Linked DNA regions of Homo sapiens. The protein of the gene in region 4 purifies or fractionates together with the protein of the main gene of each other region. This does not show direct contact. Each region holds a gene or a part of one and is shown on either strand. Other genes may lie near its edges. The genes, in order: MGA, ALDH3A2, NMNAT1, SLC28A1, POLR3F, MTNAP1 and POLR3C.

Region 1 (3,500 bases), about 43 Mb from region 4:
CACTCCACACACCTCTGCCAACCTTGTGATGACTCCGCAAGGGCAATTGCTCACCCTAAAAGGTCCCCTATTCTCAGGACCAGTGGTAGCTGTTTCTCCTGATCTCTTAGAATCTGATCTTAAGCCTCAAGTTGCCGGTAGTGCTGTGGCTCTACCAGGTATGTTGTAAGTGTTGTCCTCTATGGGAAGTGATAAAGTTATCCCTAACATCTCACGGTGACCAAGGAAGGCTTTGGATGTGTTCTGTAATGATAAAGAGCTATTCTGTTGGCATTTGCCTTGGTAAGAGGTGGCCCTATTTTTAGAACACATTTGGCTTGAGCTGTGGTACTGTTTGGTGTGTTTTACACCTGGTATTGGGAACCATTTTGTGAACACTAGTAATTTCTAAGAGGAAGAATAAAAAAGATATCAGAGGGAAAGGAAGATGTTAAATGATCATGGTCTTAGGTCTTGGTGTTGATAAATATTTGTCACTTTTTGTGGTACTCAGAGATGATAACAGTCCTGCATTATTAGCCCCATTCACTTTGAGCACTACTCTGTTTTGGGGCAAAGGGTAAAGTTGAAAGAGAAGCCTCACTTGGGTGATTAGGTTCCAGGCAACTAAATTTCTATTAAGATGAAAGGGTCTCTTTAGTAATATTAGGATCCTGGTTACTTTATTGCCATTGCCAGCCAAAATTCCTTGTCTCTACCTGTTGCCAAACTCACTCTGGAGGACTCATCTTTCCTGGTTCCCATGCTGCCTTTAGGGCTTCATTTTCTGCGCTAAGTAGCAGTTAATTAGGTGAACAGAATCAAGATGCATTTCTGCCTTAGGAGAAGAATTAACTTGGGGAGCATTTCTATAAAATAATTAAATGGAACTTTAAAAAATGGTGGAAAGAGCCTTTTGGTTGGATTTTAGTTGAGATTTTTCTTGTTGGGTTAGGTCAATAATTTGAAGAACTGATATTTCTTTCATCTTTTTGATAAAAGTAGAGTGCTGAATTTAGACTACAAATCCCTAAGATGGTTATATGATATGACAGAGAGAAAGAGAGGTGTTAACACTAGATCTAAATGAATTTTTCTTTTTTTAATTTTTGTTTTTCAGAAAATGACGACTTATTTATGATGCCACGAATTGTTAATGTGACATCATTGGCCACAGAGGGAGGTTTGGTAGATATGGGTGGCAGCAAATATCCTCATGAAGTTCCTGATAGCAAGCCATCTGACCATCTGAAAGACACCGTCAGGAATGAAGATAATTCCTTAGAGGATAAGGGTAGAATCTCTTCCAGAGGAAACAGAGATGGCAGAGTGACGTTGGGTCCAACGCAGGTTTTTCTGGCAAACAAAGATTCTGGTTATCCACAAATAGTTGACGTTTCCAATATGCAGAAAGCACAAGAGTTCTTACCTAAAAAGATTTCTGGTGATATGAGAGGGATTCAGTATAAATGGAAAGAGAGTGAATCAAGAGGGGAGAGAGTGAAGTCAAAGGATTCTTCATTTCATAAATTAAAGATGAAAGATCTCAAGGACTCAAGCATAGAGATGGAACTGAGGAAAGTAACATCAGCTATAGAGGAAGCAGCTCTTGATTCCAGTGAACTGCTGACTAACATGGAAGATGAGGATGATACTGATGAGACACTGACTTCACTGCTCAATGAAATTGCCTTTCTTAATCAACAACTAAATGATGACTCTGTTGGCCTGGCTGAACTACCCAGCTCTATGGATACAGAGTTCCCAGGGGATGCTCGGCGGGCTTTTATTAGTAAGGTTCCTCCTGGAAGCAGAGCAACTTTCCAGGTTGAGCACTTGGGAACTGGTTTGAAAGAGTTGCCTGATGTTCAAGGGGAGAGTGACTCTATCAGTCCCCTCCTCTTGCACTTGGAAGACGATGACTTTTCTGAGAATGAAAAACAACTTGCAGAACCAGCCTCTGAGCCAGATGTCCTTAAGATTGTTATTGACTCTGAAATAAAGGATTCCCTCCTTTCCAACAAGAAAGCTATTGATGGAGGGAAGAATACTTCTGGCCTCCCTGCAGAGCCCGAAAGTGTGTCCTCACCCCCCACCCTACACATGAAGACTGGCTTGGAGAACAGCAACAGCACAGACACTTTGTGGAGGCCTATGCCAAAGTTGGCCCCTCTAGGTTTAAAAGTAGCTAATCCTTCCAGTGATGCAGATGGTCAGAGTCTCAAGGTGATGCCTTGTTTGGCACCTATAGCTGCCAAAGTTGGGTCAGTTGGACACAAAATGAACTTAACAGGGAATGACCAGGAAGGCCGGGAAAGCAAGGTGATGCCTACATTGGCACCTGTTGTGGCTAAATTGGGCAACTCGGGGGCCTCACCAAGTTCTGCAGGGAAATGAACTTACTTGTCCTTAAGCAGAAGCCAGGCTGTGAGGGGAAATAGATCTCACCTCCTTTCTCTGCAGGCATCTGTTTGTTTGTGTCTTAGAACTTGGATCCTTGACTTCAATGATGCAGTGGATAATGATGGGAGAAAGGGGGTAGGGTGCTGACCCTGGTATAAGAAGTACTCTGAAATTCTGATCATGTTAAAATGTGTTACCTCACTTGTGGTGCTGGGTCCCCTCATCCTCTCTAAGAAGATGTGATCCATTACTGAACATGAGGTGCCCCTCTTACCCAAGGAATTTATAACATGACTCTGGCTCCACAGTGGTTTCTAGTTCTTCCCCCACAAGCGAAAGAGCTGTTTGCAACTTTGGAGTTGCTGTAGACTGAACTGTAGCTTGTAGCTGTTGAATTAAGTCCAAAATCTAAGGAATGCGATGGACTTGTGCAAAGGGATCCAGAAGAGACACTTTTTAGTTGATGTTTCAAGAATAGGGAGAGAGAGGATGGGTACCATGGAATACCAAAGTGAAGGACTTTGTGTCATTCAGTAAAATTTTCTTTTTTCATATCCTAAGTAGCTCCCATTCCCTCACCTTTTCAATCAGAATTAACAAATTCAAGCCTTCAGTAAAGTAGGGATGCTTTTAACTTTTATTATTAATTATTTTGAGATCTTAAAAAAATAGTAGTTCTCCCTTATTATTTTTGTGGGCATTGAAAAGCTCATTTCACAGTACCAGAGATTTTTACTGGGAGTATATATTTTGGAGGTAGGCATAGAGGGAGCCCTACCCCTTCCACAAATTACGTTACTCAAGAGACAGCTAAAATAAAATGCATTATCTCCCCAGACCAGAGACAGTGGCCAAAATAAAAAATCATGGGGCTGGAAATTTCCCAAATCAAACCAGCCTCCTGGTGCTTGAAGGTTTCATTCACTATTACCTGCACAGGATGTAAAGAAAAGTCACAGTAGGCACTCTTTACCAGGGAAATAAGGCAGTATTTGAATCACAAGATATATTTTTTATCTGCAACCATGGATCCAATGATCTGTAGAGCTTTTTCACTCATTAACTGTCAGGATATGAAGGACTGACAGTCTGTAAAGATATTTATATTTTTGTATAGT
Region 2 (3,500 bases), on a different chromosome or scaffold from region 4:
GATCATCTTACCTGAGCATGGCTATGCAGAGGAAGTAGACACTCAGCCCAAATTGTTTCTCTGACCTGAGGAAGATGTGGGCAATGGATTTGGAGTGGCAGTTTATATACCCCCTGGAAGTGGTGCTGCAAGAAGCTGTCCCCAGCCACATTGCCAAGATAACCTATTAGAAACTGGGGGTAAAGGAAAAGTGCCAACTTGTTATTGTCAGATGACTTCTCTTTTGGTTGACGAGCCAGTTTCTTACTTACAGCATCTTTTGGAGTACTGCTAGTTGGTGACTTACATTGGCAGCAGATGCTGGGACACTTTGTCTAGCCTCCCCAGCATCTGTTTCACCCTCCTTTCTTGTGCCTCTTCCCCATGGTAGATGGAACAGTGGACTAAGGTTTAGGGAATTTTGACCATTTAAGTCTGTTTTCTTAATCTGTCTAACAGAGTTATAATAAAGGTTAATGAGATCATATATATGAAAGCACTCGAGTTAAGAAAAATAGTATTGATTTGATTCACAGAGGAGCTGTCTTTGCTCCTAGAAAGACCTGTCCATTCGAGACCAGCCTGACCCAACATGGAGAAACCTCATCTCTACTAAAAATACAAAACTAGCCGGGCGTGGTGGTGCATGCCTGTAATCCCAGCTACTCGGGAGGCTGAGACAGGAGAATCACTTGAACTCCAGAGGCGGAGGTTGCAGTGAGCCGAGATGGCACCATTGCACTCCAGCCTGGGCAACAAGGGCGAAACTCCATCTCAAAAAAAAAACCTGTCCACAGAAAAATGTTAAGTATAATCTACAGTTAAATACATGCATGGCTGTGAACAGGGTTCAATGTGAAAAAGATATATTTGAGTGTGTATCGTTCCCTTGGTTTGCACAAGTATCCGCAGGGTTGTGATTCACAGGCTTTGGAGACATTGAGTATGTGCACAGTTCATCCACGTGCTCAGGATTTTTCAATAGATATGACTTGGGTGGGAGAGGGAAAGGCATGGATAAGTGACCCAATGAAAGAGATGTAATATGAGAGTTGTGCATTTTTGTCTAATAAGCATTTTCATTTTGTTTATTTTCTTTTTAGCCCCAACAGTACTTACCGATGTTGATCCTAAAACCAAGGTGATGCAAGAAGAAATTTTTGGACCAATTCTTCCAATAGTGCCTGTGAAAAATGTAGATGAGGCCATAAATTTCATAAATGAACGTGAAAAGCCTCTGGCTCTTTATGTATTTTCGCATAACCATAAGGTAAGCTTTAGAGAGAACAGCTAGTTAGCATAAGCAACTGTCAAGAGTCATGTTCCTTCTTTGCTGTAAAACAATGCAAAAAACAATGTGAAACAATGATGGTTTCTTTTGTGTCATGTCAGAGTCCATCCACTAAGTGAGGTTGTGTTCCGAGGTTGCTGTCTTGGTTAATGAGACTCTGGGGTTATCACAGCATCCATTCCCCTCCTCCCTCGGGTTAGATCTGAGTCTGCAGGGTTGAGTGTCACAAGGTTTTTGATTCACAAACATCTCCTGTATAATTGGAAGACTTATATGTGCCAGCATTAAATGCTTTTCTGATGTTAATCCACAGGGCATTGCTGAATAACAGCCTGCACAAAATGGCATTCACACCCACTGTGTGGGACAAAGACCCCGACACTGTCACATAAATGGTTGTGATATGATGGATTTTAGTTTCTAACATGACGCTAGCTTCTTGTTAGAGTGGTGGAACTGCATCACCTGGTTGAGCAGTTCTGCCACTTTCTGCATGGCTCACTCATTCATGTCACTAGGTGACCAGCCGCTACTAAGAGACCATGGCCCAAATGTTTTCTGGAGAGCTTCTGATGGTAATGTATAGATAGTCATGTGACAGCTTTTGGAGCTTGTGAGACTATTGAGATACAGATAGCTACAGGTATTTGAAGTGAGACCAAATGTGTGGGGCTCAGTAAAGACTGGGTTATTAACAAAACAATGGTTTGACATTTAAAACCATGGATAATGTGGGCAGGAAGGAACCCTGAAGCCGAAAGTAGGCTGGCCAGGGTATAAGTCAGGTGTGGAGCACTTCCCAGCAGTGGGTCACCCGAGGTCACTATAGTCCAGACTTGACGTTTGCCATGAACAATTGTCAAGGGCTTGCTGGCACCCAAGGGTAAATGACGTTTACTAGTCAAGTGTTCTTGTGCTTTTCTGAGCCTTAGGCCAAACAACCATTTATTTCTTAAAAAATAGGATGCTAAATCTAAAGTCTTAAATATTTTTACATTTCATAAAGACTAAATAATACCTATTAATCATGTGTTATAATTTAAAGCAGAGATAAGAAAGAAATAATAACAGTTTTTAAAGCTGGAATATAGTCTAAGCTGTCCCCTTTTAAAGAGTCTTTTGCTGCTGTGTTGGGGAGTACAACTCCAGGTTGTGGCTGAGTAGGCCCAGAGGTTTGGAGCTGCCTCCTTTTGTGCACTAGATGTGTGTCTGAGAAGTTGGGTATCAGTCACTTTGCTAAATTAACCAGTTGAGATTGTTTGTCTATCTGGCATGGTGTCCCCAAACTCGAGAATTTTCACTGACACAAAGCCAGAATGTGCATGCTTTGAGCACATAACTGAGCACACAGCCCTCTGTGTGGTGGGGCCATGAGTGTTCCCTAAGGGGCAACTTCACTGACCTGGACACCTTTGGTCTGTCCTCAGCTCATCAAACGGATGATTGATGAGACATCCAGTGGAGGTGTCACAGGCAATGACGTCATTATGCACTTCACGCTCAACTCTTTCCCATTTGGAGGAGTGGGTGAGTCTTATTTTCTCCTGCTTGTAGTAGATATTTCAAAAGCACCACCATTTCATGAGTGGATTGTATGGGCTGCTGAAATAGCCAGCTGTTGCGTACCCTGATTGTCCTCTCCTGAGGGAGACCTTTTCCTGGTCACCCAGTTGACTGGTTTTCCTGCTTCCCCACCCACCCCTCCAGCATAGGGCAAATGTCTTGTCACTCTCTTTCTGTCAGCAGCACTGACTGACCACAGCTTTGTTCACTTCGTTGATTTTGTTATCCTGCCACATTTAGGAGATTTGGGAACCAAGAATCAGGTCTCAAATTAATTAAGAAGATCTCTCTTCGTGTGTGTGTGTGTGTGTGTGTGTGTGTGTGTGGTGTGTGTGTTTAATGAAGTAGCAAATGAAAGGTTCGGAATACCAGGGACAGAAGGTAGAGGGGTTTTCTAATGTGCCTTTGTTTTCTGCTCAGTTCTTACCTGCATTGTTCCCCAGCCCTTTGTTGGGAGGAGCAGCCTCTCCTTGAATTGTTTTGTGATTTGAGTAAAACGGGACTCCCCCTGTTCTAGAGAGGATGGGCAGAAAGAAATTCATTCCAAGTGAAGCTTTGTGGACATAGCCTGATCCTTGCTTTTCCCTTTAGAACATGACCTGCCTGCCTCTCCCACATGTGAGATGACTGACTCAGCTTTTTATTTCTCCTTTGGGACCTAGGCTAG
Region 3 (2,262 bases), on a different chromosome or scaffold from region 4:
CAGATGAGGGTCATTTTCTCCTCCTTAGCTTCTTGGAGTTTAAGAGTTGAAGGAGTCCTGAAAAGTAATGATAGAGCAAGATGAAGCTATCAGAACTGAATTTGGACTTCCTCTGGGAAACTACACCTAGTTCATCTGAAGTGTCACGTAAACTGCAGAAAGTTTCCAATGCTGGAAACTTCTCTCATACTATCGTGCCTTCCTACTCAGAAGTGCCTGTGCCCTGCTCAGCTGTGACTACTGACCTCAGGACCTCACTGGACAAGGCATGTGGGGACCCTTGCAGGAGCCCTGGTAAGGGTACAATGATCCTATTGTTTTTTGTTTTTGAGATGGAGTCTCACTCTGTCTCCCAGGCTGGAGTGCAGTGGTGCGATCTCCGCTCACTGCAACCTCCGCCTCCCGGGTTCAAGCAATTCTCCTGCCTCAGCCTGCTGAGTAGCTGGGATTACAGGCACCCACTACCATGTCCGGCTAATTTTGTATTTTTAGTAGAGATGGGGTTTCGCCATGTTAGACAGGCTGGTCTTGAACTCCTGACCTCAGGTGATCTGCCCACCTCGGCCTTCCAAAGTGCTGGGATTACAGGCATGAGCCACTGCACCCAGCCTGATCCTATTGTTGCACTATTTATGGAGCAACAACTTTGTACAAAGAACAAGCTTTGTACAGAGAACAAGCTTGGCTTTTTCTCCCAACGCCGAGGATGCTGTTGATGCTGCCACGTAATAGCATAATTTTGGGTGTCCTCAAGGACAGAACTTCCACTTTGAATAATGGAAGTTAGAACAATGAATTTCACAGGGGAATAAATATTAATGACTGACGTGAAGAAAATATGCCATTGTTTATTCCCTCCTGCATCATTTCCATAATTTGCTTTTGTACTGTCAATTTAGAGGAAATGTGTGATGCTGGTGTTTTGTTTGGCCTGTTTGTTTGATGCTGGGGGTTTTATGTGTTGTACCCTTTACCCCTTACATTGTGTAATTTGAAAGTGGCAAACAAACCTGCAGTAAAAGTCCTTGATTGGCATCTTCATTCGGATGATGGAGAGCCTTTGTGGTAGTGTTTGCTTATGTGAACAGCAGGCCTTTCAGATAAGAGAAGTGGCTTTTCCTTGGTGATGAAGGGGTAGAGATTGAGCCATGGGGATGGTTTAGGTTAAAGAATGCTTTTTTTTGGCCATCATGAGGATCTAACAACAGAGTAGAAGGAAGGATGCCCTAGGTCAGCATGCAGGGTGGTGGGAGGGCTTTCATCTTCCTTACCCAAGCCTCTCTTTTCACTTTTCTAGAAGTCCAGAAGTTGTTATATGATGAAATAGCCTCCTTTAACGTTTATTTCTGGGTGCCAACGGAGGCCCATTCCTCTAACATTCTCATAATTTTTCTCAAAGGCCTATGATCTAAACATTTCACCACGGCATCCACTCAGCTGTGAGGCTGCGTACACAGTCTCCACCTCTGAAATCTGAACTTCGTTTACCAGTGGTGCTGTTTGAACTTCATAATGTCAGCACTTCCTGAACACTTACTGTGTGCTTGGCTTGTGCTCCTGAGTGCCTTATATCATAAGGAAACGGCAAAATCAGGGGACTGGTATAAATGGTGAGCTGAGCTTGAATCTAAGCTTTGTCTTCAGAGCCAGTACCCCTAATCTCTCTTTCTGTAAAATATTACTTTTCAAAGAATGAAGTTGTAGCCAAATCTTGAAATTTTTCATTTACCCTAAGTGAGGACAAATAAAGCTTTCAACAACAGTTTGTGGTAGTCTGATGGAGATGAGTCCGACGTATTCAGTCCTCACGGAAGGACTAGGCTGAACTTGCCCAGTGTTAGCAATTCCTTGGAACTAGAACAGTGGAATCCGAGGGAGAAGGTGATATGGGCCATAATTAACTTTTGTGTTTGTGTGTGTGTGTATGTGTGTGTGTGTTTGCTTCTGAGACAGTTTTGCTGTGTCACCCAGGCTGGAGTGCAGTGGCACAGTCTCGGCTCACTGCAACCTCTGCCTCCTGGGTTCAAGCAATTCTCCTGCTTCAGCCTCCCAAGGAGCTGGGATTACAGGCGTGTGTTACCACGCCTGGCTAATTTTTGTATATTCAGTAGAGACAGGGTTTCACCGTGATGGCAAAGCTGGCCTCAAATGATCCGCCCACCTTGGCCTCCCAAAGTGCTGGAATTACAGGTGTGAGCCATCACGCTCTGCCCAGATAGGGTTTTTGACCTGTCATAGTGGTGCCTGGTCCCATTATTCTCT
Region 4 (3,990 bases):
CTCCCAAAGTGCTAGGATTATTGCTACTTTCCAATATTTCTACTACAGACTACGGGAAGTCCATTTTTCAATGCCAAATGCAGAAGAAAAAGTTGTATGGATGCCCTTTCTGCCAATCATCCCAGGTTTAGGAGAGAAGAATGATGAGGTCATGTTCATGGAACTTGACGAGTGATAAGCCTCTTTATTTGTCCAGTGCTTGGATACACGAATCGATGCAATGAAAGAGACCTCGCCTGTGAAGAGCTAAGAAATGAGTGTGGGCAGAATCATGAGAAGAAAATAAAGAGATTGCTGAGCAACTCTTCTGACAGTTCTTGTGCTTTTTGAATGTTTCACTCACTACTTATAAAATAACCTATTATGTCAGAGCCTGGCGAGAAGGGATCCTCTCCAACTCTTTGACTAATAATTCCCTAAAACAGGAGGTGGCCTGCAGAAGAACTAAAACCAGAAAAGTTAGGTGGTTGCCTCTGAGGAATGGGATAGAGTTGGAGGGGTGGAGCAGCCCCTTTACTGTCAACCCTTCTGAGCTCTGCTGGATGGTGAGGGAAATTATCTATGTATATTTATGTGGTCCTCTCCCCACTCTGCCCTGGCCTGGCTCAGCTCTAGGTCTCACTCAGCGGGCGTCTGCGGGTGTGCCGGGCCTCAGAGGCTGTCTCCTTAGGAAACAGGCCACCAAGAAGCCCAAGGACATGCTGAGGTCCCACAGCTGGAGGGGCACAGCCGGGACACCTGAGGTCCTCCAGCTGTTGGTCTTTCCCTGGGGTCTCCACCCCAATCTATCCAGCCTCCCAACTCCCCAGCCTGTGGCTTTTTGCCACATTCCACCTGAAAAGACCGCTTGGCTTCTGGGGTCTGGGATCCCTGCTGGCCATGCCTCCTTGAGAGGAGGAGCAGGGGAGAAGCCCGGAGTCTCCTGGCCTGGAGGAGGGGAGCAGTGTGTCAGGACACCCCGGATGGGACCTGTGACAGCAATGACACCTGCCAGCCTGATGCCGCTTGACTCCCTGCCAGGTACTTCCTAAGCAGGAGCACGCTGACTCCTCATGTGCTCTATTACCCACCACCAGATGAGGCAGCAAGTTAACTTTGGCAGTCAGGAGTGGAGACCTTTGGGCTCCAAGCTCAAGGTCCACCCCAAGACACACAGCCCATTAAATCCTTGTTGTAGAGATTAGGGCCCACAACGATGTGAAGGTTATAAGCTGCACTGCATGGTTGCTGCTGGATGTGTTGTGTTCCTGGCTTCCCTCTGGATGCTGACAGAAACAAGGGTGAGAGAAAAGGACAGTAGGAGAGGAGGGAAGGCGGGACTGAAGAAAGGAGGGGAAGGGGGTAGCACAGGGCAAAGTGGAAAAGCAGGTAGCGTCCTTTTTTTCTTCACTAGGGCTTGGCGAAGACCCCTTCGAGGACAGCTCCAGGCCCATCCCTGTGGTGGCCACCCATGGAGACAGTAGTGCTGCTCAGAGGCATTTAGTTTTTGTTTCTTTTCTGTTTTTGAGGTAGAGTCTCGCTCTGTTGCCGAGGCTGGAGTGCAGTGGTGTGATCTCTGCTCACTGCAGCCTCCACCTCTCGGGTTCAAGCAATTCTCCTGCCTCAGCCTCCCGAGTAGCTGGGACTACAGGCACCTGCCACCATGCCTGGCTAATTTTTGTATTTTTAGTAGAGACGGGGTTTCACCATGTTGGCCAGGCTGGTCTCGAACTCCTGGCTTCAAGTGATCTGCCCACCTTGGCCTCCCAAAGTGCTGGGAGTGCAGGCATGAGCCACCGTGCCCCCCCTCTTTTTTTTTTTTAAAGGTAGAGTCTTGCTCTGTGGCTAGTTTTCAATCAAGGTAACACATGGGCTCTCAACAGTGTGCGGAACTCTGCTAGAAAAATCAAATTATGAGAACACTGTTACTGTGTGATCCCCTATTGGAAAATGAATAACATAAAATAACATACATTTAGGAAAAAAAAAGTGGAGAAAAGGCCAGGCGCGGTGGCTCATGCCTGTAATCCCAGCACTTTGGGAGGCCAAGGTGGGTGGACCACCTGAGGTTGGAAGTTCGAGACCAGCCTGACCAACATGGAGAAACCCCATCTCTACTAAAAATACAAAATTAGCCAGGTGTGGTGGCGCATGCCTGTAATCACAGCTACTTGGGAGGCTGAGGCAGGAGAATCGCTTGAACTTGGGAGGCGGAGGTTGCAGTGAACCGAGCTCGCACCACTGTACTCCAGCCTGGGCAACAAGAGTGAAACTCCGTCTCAAAAAAAAAAAAAAAAAGGAGGAAAATGCCACACAAACTCAATAGTGGTCATCCCTGAGGGCTCAGATTCCGGGGACTTTAACTTCCCTCATTCTGTATATTTCTCTAATGTTTAAATGTTTAATGATACACTTGTAATGCTTTGGTAATTCAAATGACAGATGAAGAAAAAATGTTTTCAAAAAGAGGGGGTGTCCATCCACCATCCTCTCCAAACTTCCAAAACAACCAGGAGGTGCCGGTACTAGCAAGTATTTATGCATCATAGAGGATTTTGTCCTGAGCGCGTACCATTAATTATTAAAGAGATGTTGTGAATCCCGTCAGATGAGTTTAATGTTTAGTGTGAGGACTGGAAAACTAAAGCATTCAGCCCTTCGCTTTGCACACCGTTGGCTTAGGTATTCATTTAACAAAGATGAAATGAAGGGGAAATGGTGTGATTTGGTTTTGTTTTCTTGACAGACCTGAAACACTTTTACTATTTCTCACAGCTACACTGCTTTCCTCATTTTCCAGCACAGGAAAATTGGTTGCTGTTATAATAAATCCCCATCTAGTGAGAAAGGGAGATAGAGAAAGATGCAAAATGAAAGATAAAATGCAAAAAGCTAACAGCCTGGCTGGGGAAAGGAGGCCATGGGAAGGAAGGAGGGGGAGGGAAATAATCACATAGGTGGCTTCCTGGAAGAAGCGGCCCTAATAGGCCTGGAAGAGGTCAGTTTGGGAACTGGGGAGAGGGCAGAGGAGGGCATCTCTGATGGAGAAGCAGCAGCCAGTGGGCAGGAGCTGCAGGGAGCCAGGTTGCAAGTGGGCCTGCTTCCTGTATCCCTGAGACCGTGTTGGGGTCCCCACCCTGGCTGTGGCCCTGGCCTCTGGGGAGGCGCTGGGCAGAACTGGGTGGCAGGCCCAACCTACTCCGACCCTGGACTCTGCCCAGGAATTTCTGCTGAAGTGACAAGGCAAGCCAGAGCCAAAGCAGGTTGGACCCAGCTTGTCCCCACAGAGACGTGTGCTTCCCTCTCTCTCTGAGAGCGACCTGTTAACCGCAAATACGTGAGTAGAAACAGGGCCCCGCTTCTGTGTGCGCTGCTGTGCGTCTGTGTGTGAGCCAGGGCATTCCCAGGCTCTGCCTGTGTGTGTGCACGCACATGCACGGGTCTCTGAGTATGTCAGCCTAACTGGGCTGGCATTTGGATGGAGTAGGGCACCACCCAAGGGGAGAAAAAGGAGCGGGAACAAGAGAAGGGAGAGAGGAGGTGTTAGTTACCACTCTTATTTACAGATGAGCTTAAGCCTACGAACTGAGCTTCAGCAAAAAATGAACTATATTGATTCTTGCAATGGAAAGTCCAGGAGTAGGATTGGTTTCAGGTATAGTTGGATCCAGGAACTGGAATGATGCCTTTAAGGATGTTGCACCTCCATCTTTCAGAGATGGAAAAGTAGAATACACTGAAGATCTCACTTAATGGTAATAGTTTTAACCAGTTGTAGGGAGTGATGAAAGCTAGGTCCTCTCTTCAGAAAAATGCCTGTATCAGATACATATGCAGGCTGTATATAATTCTTTACTTTCCTTCCCTATGAAGTGGGCAGAATTTGCTGTTTCTGCCTGGAACTCCCAGAGTTCACAAGGACTTGCCTCTTACAGGTTCAGATGTGGGTGCAGGCTGGGGTGGTGGCGCACGCCTGTAATCCCAACACTTTGGGAGGCTGAGGTGGGAGGA
Region 5 (3,500 bases), on a different chromosome or scaffold from region 4:
TTTTTACAAAACTAAACAGAGTCTTACCACATTGTCCAAAGGTCAAGCTCTTAAGTATTTACCCAACTGATTTGAAAACTCATGTCCACATAACTACATGAATATTTATAGCAGCTTTATTCGTAATCAGCAGCTTTATTCATAATCAAAAACTGGAAGCAACCAAGGTATCCTTCAATAGGTGAATGGATAGACAAACCAGAATAGTATTCAGTTATAAAAAGAAATAAGCTATCATGAAAAGATATGAGTAAATCTTAAATGCATATTGCTAAGTAAAAGAAGCCAGTCCGAAAAGGCTACATACTGTATGATTACAACTATATGACATACTGGAAAAGGCAAAACTAGACAGACTAAAAAGATCGGGGTGAGGGCAGGGATGGTAGGGAAAGTTGAATAGGTGAAGCATGAGAAATATTTCTAGGGTGGTGAAATTATTTTGTATGACAGAAGCATTAACCAAATTTGGAAGCCCACCCAAGCTTTGCTGTCCAAAGTTTTTATTAGGGTTTCATTATACAGGCATGATTGATTGAATCCTTGGTCATGTGAGTGAATTCAATCTCCAGCTCCTCTCTTCTCCCAAGAGATTGGACTGATGTCATGTGGCCCAAAGCCCCAACCCTCTAATCATGCGGTTGGTCTTTCCAGCATGGACAACTCCTATCCTGAAACTATTTAGAGTCCTATCAGGAGTCACCTTGTTAGCATAAACCCAGGTGTGATCTAAGGGATTCACCATGAATAACAAGGCCTATTGGGAAATTCCAAAGATGTAGAAGTTATTTCCTAGGAAAAAGGGACAAAGTCTAGCCAAATTTTTTTCTTTTTTTTTTTTTTTGAGACATGGTCTGGCTCTGTCACCCAGACTGGAGTGCAGTGGCACAATCACAGCTCACTGCAGCATCAACCTCCTGGGCTCAAGCCATCCTCCCACCACAGCCTTCCAAGTAGCTGGGACTATAGGCACGTGCCACCATGCTCAGCTAATTTTTGTATTTTTGTAGAGACAGGGTTTTACTATGTTACCCAGGCCTGTCTTGAACTCCTAGACTTAAAGATCTGCCCACCTCAGCCTCCCAAAGTGCTGGGATTACAGGCATAAGCCACCATGCCTGGCCCAAATTCTTCATGTTTACAACCCAGTGAAATTTGGGTTCCTCAGTGTTGGGGTGAGTAGTTACAGACAAACAAGGAAAGTTAGAATGATCCATGTAGTAATGGATTAGACTTGAAAACATCAGTATGGACTCTTGTGTAATTTAATATAAATAATATAGATGGTTATATTTAGAAATATTGAGTATAGCTATGTATATATACAAGGGTTAATATGCGCACATAAATCTCGTGCTGCCAACTGAGAAGGCCTAGAAGTGATGACATCCCGATGGCAATGAACACATCTAGTGCCCAAGTCGTGGTTTCTATCATGCAATAAAATGAACATGTAGAAAATGCTCCTGACGGCTGGGCAGGGTGGTTCATGCCTGTAATCCCAGCACTTTGGGAGGCCAAGGAGGGTGGATCACCTGAGGTCAGGAATTAGAGACCAGCTTGGCCAACATGGTGAAACCCCATCTCTACTGAAAATACAAAAAAATTAGCTGGGCATAGTGACGGGCGCCTGTAATCCCAGCTACTCGGGAGGCTGAGACAGGAGAATCGCTTGAACCTGGGAGGTGGAGGTTGCAGTAAGCTGAGATCGTGTGCCATTGCACTCCAGCCTGGCAACAAGAGCGAAACTCCGTTTCAAAAAAAAAAAGAAAAGAAAATGCTCTTGACATCTTGTAGTGCTAGAAAGTAAGAAAGTGCTACAATAGCTGGACACGGGGGCTCATGCCTGTAATCCCAGCACTTTGGGAGGCTGAGGCGGGAGGATCACGAGGTCAAGAGATCGAGACCATCCTGGCCAACATGGTGACACCCCCGTCTCTGCTAAAAATACAAAAATTAGCTGGGCATGGTGGCACATGCCTGTAGCCCCAGCTACTCGGGAGGCTGAGGCAGGAGAATCACTTGAACCCAAGAGGCAGAGGTTGCAGTGAACCAAGATTGCACCAGTGCACGCCAGCCTGGGCGACAGTGCAAGACCCTGTCTCCAAAAGAAAAAAAAAAGTGCTAAAATACACACACACACGATGGGAGCATAGCAAAGGGATACAGGAACCAAGTGAAAAGCTTCCAATGCCCAAAGCATTCCAAAGCTTCCAGTGTGGGAATAACAATGAAGTATCTGAATGTAAATCAAAGTATAAAATAAATACTCATGAGTCCATAGTGATAGAAATACGGTGTTTGAGAAACTGTCACAACTAAAAGAAGCCTGAGAGAGATGACTAAATGTAGTATGATGTCCTGGATGGAATCCTGGAGCAGAAAAGGAACATTAGGACTAATGAAATCTGAATAAAGTATGGCATTTAGTTAGTAATGATTTATCAATATTAGTTCATTAATTGTGACAAGTGTACCACACTAATCCAAGATGTTAAAAATAGGGGAAACAGCATGATGTATATAGGAGCTCTGTGTACTATCTTTGCAATAATTTTGTACATCTTAAACTGTTCCAAAATATAGGTGTTTTTGTTTTTGGAAATTGTTATCTTATAAACACATGAACTGTGCATGTTCTTTCCTAGGCCTCAAAAAAGAAGGTGTATATGCTCTATAACCTGCAGCCAGACCGGTCTGTGACTGGTGGAGCCTGGTACAGTGACCAGGATTTTGAATCTGAATTTGTAGAGGTGCTTAACCAACAGTGTTTTAAATTCCTACAGTCCAAGGTGAGGTATGATTGAGGAAACATCACTGCAAACCCTCTTGTAAAAAGTTTTTCACAAAGGATTTTAATCTATTTATCATATTTTATAGGAATTAAAAACCTGAAATTGGGAATTTTTACTTAACTAAATATGTTCTGTTGTTGGTTTGACTCAGTATAAAGTGTATTCAGAAAACACACCAATATTCTTATTTACATTTCTTATGTTTCAATCCTTATAGGCAGAAACAGCACGAGAAAGCAAACAGAACCCAATGATACAAAGAAATAGTTCATTTGCCTCATCACATGAAGTGTGGAAATATATCTGCGAATTGGGAATCAGTAAGGTCAGAACTGAATTTCATCTTATTTTTTAAAACTTATTCTTTGTCACATACAATGTATTCCAAACATGTATTTGACCCACATTGTTTTTTTTTTTTGAGATGATAGCTACGAACATTCTGCAGAATCCACTTTGGGAAAATACTGTCCTGTATCTTAGGCAAAGGCAGTCACTGCCATTGGGCATTGTCTGAACTGATACTCAGCTTGGGACACTGATGCTTTTTTTATTTTTTTGGAGGTAGGGTCTCATTTTGTTGCCCAGGCTGGTTTTGAACTTCTGGACTCAAGTGATCCTCCTGCGTTGGCCTCCCAAAGTGCCACTGTACCCTAGCCTTTTGAAATTCTTTTTTTAAGGACACTGATGCTTTTCACAGTGAAG
Region 6 (3,500 bases), on a different chromosome or scaffold from region 4:
CTAAAGAGGAGAGGAAAAAAATGTTAAAATGTGTGTTGTCTTCCTAGTTTTCCATTTGTCTGTGTTCATTTTGGAGTTGGACATAATTGAAAGCACCAAAGCTAATAACAGCTACCATTTATTCAACAGCTTGTATTTTTTAATACCTACCCCCAACTTTCCCTTGCCCACATTGATTGTGCCTCCTCCCAAAGCCAGAAAAACTCTAAACCTCAAGTTAACCAGTTGTATTAGCCTCCTCCCACTAAAGATTTTAACCAAGCACCCAAAACAAGAGTAACTAATTTGAATCTAGTCAAGTTAAGGTTCTTTGATGTTAGCCTTTATGTGTTTAAAATATGTGCGTGTAAATCTCTGAATTACAGTTCCATCACTCAGGCTAACTGGGAAAACTTGAATGACTCGCGGATACTGGCCCTAGTTTCAGTTGCTGTAACAACAAGCCGTGTTTCCTTTTGAACAGGCTGGATCAGGTGCAACACCACCATAAGGAAGAGTGGATTCGGTGGCATCACGATGCTCTTCACAGGATACTTCGTCCTGTGTTGTAGCTGGAGTTTCAGACGTCTGAGTAAGTCTTTCTATATTTCTAGCCTAAATAACAGGTCCCATTCCGTTATGTGGACCTCCAAGGGATTCTCTGAATTTTTTTTTTTTTTTTTTTTTTTTACAGCTTTACAGTATCTGGCATGCCCTGGTGAATGAGCTATTGCCTGGGGTTTCTGGGTTTTATTTTTTTGAGATACAGTTTTGCTCTTGTTGCCCAGGCTGGAGTGCAATGGCACGATCTCAGCTCACTGCAACCTCTGCCTCCTGGGTTCAAGTGATTCTCCTGCCTCAGCCTCTCGAGTAGCTGGGATTATAGGCATGCACCACCATGCCCGGCTAATTTTGTATTTTTAGTAGAGACGGGGTTTCTCCATGTGGGTCAGGCTGGTCTCGAACTGCCGACCTCAGGTGATCCGCCCACCTCAGCCTCCCAAAGTGCTAAGATTACAGGCATAAGCCACTGCACCTGGCAGGCTCCGGGGTTTTATTAGAGGCTTGGTTGTAATGGCCTGTATAAGATTTGACTAGAATTTACATAATTGCCCTTGTCCTCCATTTCATGTTGTCTTTTTTTTTTTTTTTTCCCACCCAGGCTAGAGTGCAGTGGCATGATCTCAGCTCACTGTAACCTCTGCCTCCTAGGTTCAAGTGATTCTTCTGCCTCAGCCTCCTGAGTAGCTGGGACTACAGGTGTGTGTCACCATGCCTGGCTAACTTTGTTTTTGTATTTTTAGTAGAGACAGGGTTTTCACCATATTGGCCAGGCTAGTCTCGAACTCCTGACCTCATGATTCTCCTGCCTCGGCCTCCCAAAGTGCTGGAATTACAGGCATGAGCCACCGCACTCAGCCTTTGTAGCTTTTTTCCCTTCCCTGCTAAAAGGTCAGGTACCTAAGAACTGTTACCCTGCTCCAATGGAAGGTGCTTTTCCTTGGTGCCTAAGAGCACCTTTTTGGCATTGAAACCAAACACCTTTACACCACAAAAGAGAGAAGGAGGAATAGAATACAGCTGTCACTTACCAATGTGTCTAAGTCTTATTGCTATCTCAGTTAATCTACTTTGAACACTTAAAAAACAAAGTGCCATTCTCCAAGTTTCAGCTTGCACTAAGTCTTAACCAGAAGGAAAATACCTTAATTTCATTTATCTTAATTCAAGATGTGTTTGTTCATTTCTTATTGTATTATTAAAAAAATCCTTCTAGTTAAAAAGATGAGTGGGTATCAAAAATATCAGCATTTTTGTATAATTAAATTTTTGTGCTGGTTTTTGTACAATCAAAAACCAGTATTTTGGGGCCGGGCGCGGTGGCTCACGCCTGTAATCCCAGCACTTTGGGAGGCCGAGGCTGGCAGATCACCTGAGGTCATGAGTTCAAGACCAGCCTGCCCAACGTGGTGAAACCCTGTCTCTACTAAAAATACAAAGATTAGCTGGGCGTGGTGGCGGGCGCCTGTAGTCCCAGCTACTCGGGAGGCTGAGGCAGGAGAATTGCTAGAACCCAGGAGGCAGAGGTTGCAGTGAGCCGAGATCGCGCCACTACTCCAGCCTGGGCAACAAGTGAAACTGCATCTCAAAAAAAAAAAAAAAAAAAAAAAACCACCAGTATTTTTGTACAATTAAAACAAAAAGCCCACTTTCAGATGAAAACTTCAGGTGTAAAAGTACAAGATAACGATGAATTCTGAAGGCCAGCATAATTCACACACTGGACTTCTTAAGAAAAAAAAAAATCACAATTTGATGCTAATTGGGATTCGTTTGATGAAATCAGTGCCTAGTGAGTAGCGGGTAGGTCCGACAGCAGGAACAAGGCGGCAGCACTCCTGCATGCTGGCTGGGATGGCCTCGCCGCCATCTCTTGTATCAGACACCTGGCCATGGGTGAGGAAAAGAAGTGCCTTTCTGATCGTCCTGCATAAATGGAGAGGCCCAAAACCAAGAGTCATTTCTCCCACAGAGAAAAGGGCTTTTCTTAAAGTTTTACCAGTCTGAAAGGGATTGTTTGATACCTGACATTAATGAACAGAGACTGAAGAAAGTGAAACAAACTTCTCATTGTGCTTAATACTCTATTTCTAAACTTATAAAACAAAAAGAGAATGATCTGTAGAGGCAAAAGATAGTAACAGTCATTGGAAGTGGCCTCTCGGATCCTTACATTTGTCTCTGTTTATCCAAAGAGCTGCAGCGGTGGCGTAAGTAGTGTTGACCTGGACATCACTTAAAGCTCTGGAACAGCAAAGGGCGTACAGTGGAGACGACTGCAATACATACTTAACAGTTTAAAAATGTATAATATTTGGGACAGGGAGAGGGGAGTGAAAAAAATAAAGAATAAAATTATTGGAATCTAAAATAATGATACAGGAAGTAAACGTATTATTAATATAGACAGATCTGGTTCTGTCTGGATGTTCTTGGCTTGCTCTCAGGAGCAACTGAGAATTAGAGAAAAACTAGTTTTGTTTAACCATAAAGTTGTTATTCAAGGAGATGTGAAGATGACAAAGTTCATCACTAAAATTAAGAAGTCACTTCTCAGTAAAAAGCTAGTATCTCATTACCATTCAGCTATATGAGATACCAGACTACTACCTATATGTTGATACAGGAAAGTATCTGAATTGGCAGAAAATAAGCCCACATCAGGCCCTTCCCCTTAGTTTCTTTGGGGCCCTTGACCAGATCTTGATAAGGTGTGAGAAACACAAGAGCTAAGGATGGGCATTCGAGTTGCAGGTAAGCCTCCGAAAAAAAGCTTACAAATATTTTTAAGCTGATTTTTAAAATAGCACACTAACTATAATGTTAAATCACATTTTATACATCTTAATTGAGTATAATAATGAACCGGTGGCTAATGTATCATCTCTTCCTGGAAACTTTTCAGAATCCCACCCCTATCTATCCCTTTCTCAAGAGTTTCTGTGCATTACTGAGAAATT
Region 7 (3,500 bases), on a different chromosome or scaffold from region 4:
GCGGCAGGATAATGGCCTGAACCTGGGAGGCAGGGGTTGCAGTGAGCTGAGATCACGCCACTGCACTCCATCCTTGGTGACAGAGCAAGACTCCATCTCAAAAAAAAAAAAGAAATTGGGTTGTCTAGGCACAGTGGCTCGTGCCTGTAATCCCAGCATTTTGGGAGGCTGACGTAGAAGAATCACTTGAGCCCAGGAGTTTGAGACCAGCCTGGACAACATAGTGAGACCCCATCTGTACCAAAAAAAAAAACACCAGACCTGGTGGCACATGTTTGTAGTCCCAGCTACTCAGGGGCTGAGGTGGGAGGATCACTTGAGCCCAGGAAGTCAAGGCTTCAGTGAGCCATGATGGTGCCACTGCACTACAGCCTGGGCAACAGAGCAAGACCCTGTCTCAAAAAAAAAAAAAAATTGGGTTGGTTATAGTGTAGTTACCTGAAAACTTACAAAACAGAACAGTTTGGGGAACAAATGGAAGTGTCAAATAGGCAGCTGAGTCTATGCATCTGGAGCATAATAGAGAGTTCCAGGATAGGCCGGGTGCGGTAATGCCTGTAATCCTAGCACTTTGGGAGGCAGAGGCAGGTGGATCACCTGAGGTCAGGAGTTCGAGACCAGCCTGGCCAAGATGGCGAAACCCCGTCTCTACTAAAAATACAAAAATTAGCCATGCATGGTGGCGCAGGCCTGTAATCCCAGCTACTTGGGAAGCTGAGGCAGGAGAATCGCTTGAACCTGGGGGGCAGAGGTTGCAGTGAGCGGAGATTGTGCCACTTCACTCCAGCCTGGGCGAAAGAGCAAAACTCCATCTCAAAAAAAAAAAAAAAAAGAGAGAGTTCTAGGATAGAGTAACAGATTTGGAAATGCATCAATAGTTGAAGCCTGGAGAGCAGATAAAATTACCCAAGTAGAGCATGTAGAGTAAAAAGAAAGGAAAGGTATGGACAGAACCCTGACAAAACACCAGGATTACAGTTGGGATCTGAAAGAGGAATCTGTGGATACTGAGGAAAGGTAGCCAGAAAGGTTCAAAGTAACGCCAAGAAAAAATGGTGTCGGCCAGGCCCAGTGGCTCACACTTGTAATCCTAACACTTTGGAAGGCCAAGGCGGGCAGATCGCTTGAGCCTAGGAATTTGAGACCATCCTGAGCAACATGGTGAGACCGTCTCTACAGAAAAATACAAAAATTACCCAAGCGTGGTGGCACGCACCTGTGGTCCCAGCTGCTTGGGAGGCTGAGATGAGAGGATCACCTGAGCCCAGGGAGGTCAAGGCTGCAGTGAGCTACAATCACACCACTGCACTCCAGCCTGGGTGACAAAGACCCTGTCTTTAAAAGGAAAAAAAAAATGGTGTCATAAAACCAAGGAGCCACATAAAGTTTTAAGAAGGAAAAAATGTCCAACCATGTCATATGCTTCCAAAAGGTTAAATAAGATCAGAAGTGGAAATTATTATTTGAACTTAACAACATAGAATCCTTAAGGACAGTTGTGGAATTTCACTGGAATGCGAGTGACAATTGACATTTCAGTACAATAGTGGAAATGGGTTGCGTAAATCTAGGTAGAGATACAACTGAGATGGCCAACTGTTTGAGAAGCTTGGCTGTGACACTAAGGAAAAGAAGAGAAGGCATAGGGTTGAAAGAGAATTCTAGAGTAGAAAGAGACTTGGACAGGGTAAAGGCTGATAAGAAGGCGGTAGAGAAGGAAAGCCTGAAGATGTTAGAGGACAGGGTAAAATAGAGCTGGATCCCCAAGAATGAATGAGAGAGTAAGATTTGGAATACCAATATGGGCATTAACCTTAGGTAAAAGGAGCATTTTTCAGCTGTGATAAAAGTGAGTGAAAATATGAATCAAGAACAAAAAAGAAATGTGGTGAGGATGTGCACAGAGCTGAGTGAGTTCTGGCCTAGTGTCTTCTATTTTCTCTGTGAAATGAGAGGCAAAGTCATCTGCCGAGAGTGAGAAGGAAGAAGGGTCAAGTTGGAGACTTGAAAGTAATGGAGAAGAGTTAAAATAGAGAGAGAAAGGCCGGATGTGGTGGCTCACACCTATAATCCCAGCACTTGGAGTCCGAGGCAGGCAGATCACCTGAGGTCAGGAGTTCGAGACCAGCCTGGCCAACATTGTAAAACCCCAACTCTACTAAAAATACAAAAATTAGCCTAGCGCAGTGGTGGTTGCCTGTAATCCCAACTACTCAGTAGGCTGAGACAGGAGAATCACTTGAACCCGAGAGGCAGAGGTTGCAGTGAGCCGAGATCATGCCACTGCACTCCAGCCTGGGTGACGAGCAAAACTCCGTCTCAGAAAAAAATTAAAATAAATGTTAAATAATAAAATAGGGAGAGAAAGATTGGAGATGAGCTTAGAAAACCTGTTTGAAGTCGGAATTTGTCTAGACACCAGTCTACATGACTGAATGATTTTTTTCCAACCAATGTAATTGTTACTGTGTAGGAAAAGAAATGGTGAACCATTAAATCCAAGCTCCTCACCAGAAAACTTTACACTATAGCTAAATGTTTCTCTAAATCTTTTCCTCAGCCCATTCCAGATGATGGGATTTATTGGCAGGCCAACCTTGACAGATTCCACCAACACTTCCGTGACCAAGCCATTGTGAGCGCAGTTGCTAACAGGATGGACCAGGTAATACCTAAGTGGGTCTGTCATTGGTCATCAGGGACATTTACTTATTTGTCAGATATGGCCATTGGCACATAGAGCCAGGGGCAGCACTGTGATTTCTGAATTCTAGTTTACTTTTCAAACAGACAAGCAGCGAGATTGTGCGAACCATGCTCCGAATGAGTGAGATTACCACTTCCTCTAGTGCTCCCTTCACCCAGCCATTGTCTTCCAATGAGGTGAGTTTCATGTTCTTGCACTAACTTTCTGACAGATTCTTGGGTGTTATCAACGTTTATTATACACAGATCCTGAGTTTGGGTTGAGGTCTGAGCCTTGAAAGAGAAGGGCATTTGATGTGGAGCAGGGATTATCTTCAAGTGATGAGCACTGAAATGTTTGGTCTCTTAGGATCCAGCTTTTAAAAATCTACACTATTCACTTAGTCAAAGTATCTATTCGTCAAGTACAGCCTATTCCTAATTATTTTAAGAATCCACAATTTGGACTCTGAGAGCCTTGGCATTCAGGACATTATTTGACCCCCTGTACTTAAAATATCGATATTTAATATATCCAATATGTGTTATTTATATTACTTTCATAGTAATACAGTCATGCATCACTTAACAGCAGGGATACATTCTGAGAAATGTGTCGTTAGGTGATTTCATCATTGTGTGAACATCATAGGGTGTACTTAACACAAACCTAGATGGTGTAGCCCTACAGCACACCTAGACTGAACGGGATAGCCTATGGCTTCTAGGCTGTAAACCTGTACAGCATGTTACTGTACTGAATACTGTAGGCAGTTGTAACGCAGTAGCATCTGTGTATCTAAACATCTAATCAC

What was found.
Region 1: the proteins of SLC28A1 (region 4) and MGA purify together in Homo sapiens (affinity purification with mass spectrometry; one large-scale study listed by BioGRID and IntAct). This does not show direct contact.
Region 2: the proteins of SLC28A1 (region 4) and ALDH3A2 purify together in Homo sapiens (affinity purification with mass spectrometry; one large-scale study listed by BioGRID and IntAct). This does not show direct contact.
Region 3: the proteins of SLC28A1 (region 4) and NMNAT1 purify together in Homo sapiens (affinity purification with mass spectrometry; one large-scale study listed by BioGRID and IntAct). This does not show direct contact.
Region 5: the proteins of SLC28A1 (region 4) and POLR3F purify together in Homo sapiens (affinity purification with mass spectrometry; one large-scale study listed by BioGRID and IntAct). This does not show direct contact.
Region 6: the proteins of SLC28A1 (region 4) and MTNAP1 purify together in Homo sapiens (affinity purification with mass spectrometry; one large-scale study listed by BioGRID and IntAct). This does not show direct contact.
Region 7: the proteins of SLC28A1 (region 4) and POLR3C purify together in Homo sapiens (affinity purification with mass spectrometry; one large-scale study listed by BioGRID and IntAct). This does not show direct contact.

The regions. Positions count from the first base shown.
Region 1 is NC_000015.10:41,764,905-41,768,404, forward strand, and holds part of MGA (MAX gene-associated protein), read left to right. Parts: coding exon 1-158; intron 159-1,099; coding exon 1,100-2,376; 3' UTR 2,377-3,500. UniProt on the Homo sapiens protein: Functions as a dual-specificity transcription factor, regulating the expression of both MAX-network and T-box family target genes. Functions as a repressor or an activator.
Region 2 is NC_000017.11:19,662,251-19,665,750, forward strand, and holds part of ALDH3A2 (aldehyde dehydrogenase family 3 member A2), read left to right. Parts: intron 1-1,082; coding exon 1,083-1,249; intron 1,250-2,697; coding exon 2,698-2,797; intron 2,798-3,500.
Region 3 is NC_000001.11:9,983,737-9,985,998, forward strand, and holds the end of NMNAT1 (nicotinamide/nicotinic acid mononucleotide adenylyltransferase 1), read left to right. Parts: 3' UTR 1-1,399; coding exon of another isoform or gene 1,400-1,407; 3' UTR 1,408-1,762; downstream 1,763-2,262.
Region 4 is NC_000015.10:84,883,472-84,887,461, forward strand, and holds the start of SLC28A1 (sodium/nucleoside cotransporter 1), read left to right. Parts: upstream 1-1,190; 5' UTR 1,191-1,234; coding exon of another isoform or gene 1,235-1,280; intron 1,281-3,200; 5' UTR 3,201-3,316; intron 3,317-3,914; exon of another isoform or gene 3,915-3,990. UniProt on the Homo sapiens protein: Sodium and pyrimidine nucleoside symporter of the plasma membrane that imports uridine, thymidine and cytidine into cells by coupling their transport to the transmembrane sodium electrochemical gradient.
Region 5 is NC_000020.11:18,477,390-18,480,889, forward strand, and holds part of POLR3F (DNA-directed RNA polymerase III subunit RPC6), read left to right. Parts: intron 1-2,648; coding exon 2,649-2,792; intron 2,793-3,012; coding exon 3,013-3,120; intron 3,121-3,500. UniProt on the Homo sapiens protein: DNA-dependent RNA polymerase catalyzes the transcription of DNA into RNA using the four ribonucleoside triphosphates as substrates.
Region 6 is NC_000017.11:73,242,433-73,245,932, forward strand, and holds part of MTNAP1 (mitochondrial nucleoid-associated protein 1), read left to right. Parts: intron 1-463; coding exon 464-571; intron 572-2,735; coding exon of another isoform or gene 2,736-2,758; exon of another isoform or gene 2,759-2,914; intron 2,915-3,500. UniProt on the Homo sapiens protein: Critical regulator of mitochondrial DNA (mtDNA) abundance. Binds dsDNA throughout the mitochondrial genome without sequence specificity and controls mtDNA copy number by promoting its replication.
Region 7 is NC_000001.11:145,830,700-145,834,199, forward strand, and holds part of POLR3C (DNA-directed RNA polymerase III subunit RPC3), read left to right. Parts: intron 1-2,560; coding exon 2,561-2,665; intron 2,666-2,774; exon of another isoform or gene 2,775-2,790; coding exon 2,791-2,883; intron 2,884-3,500. UniProt on the Homo sapiens protein: DNA-dependent RNA polymerase catalyzes the transcription of DNA into RNA using the four ribonucleoside triphosphates as substrates.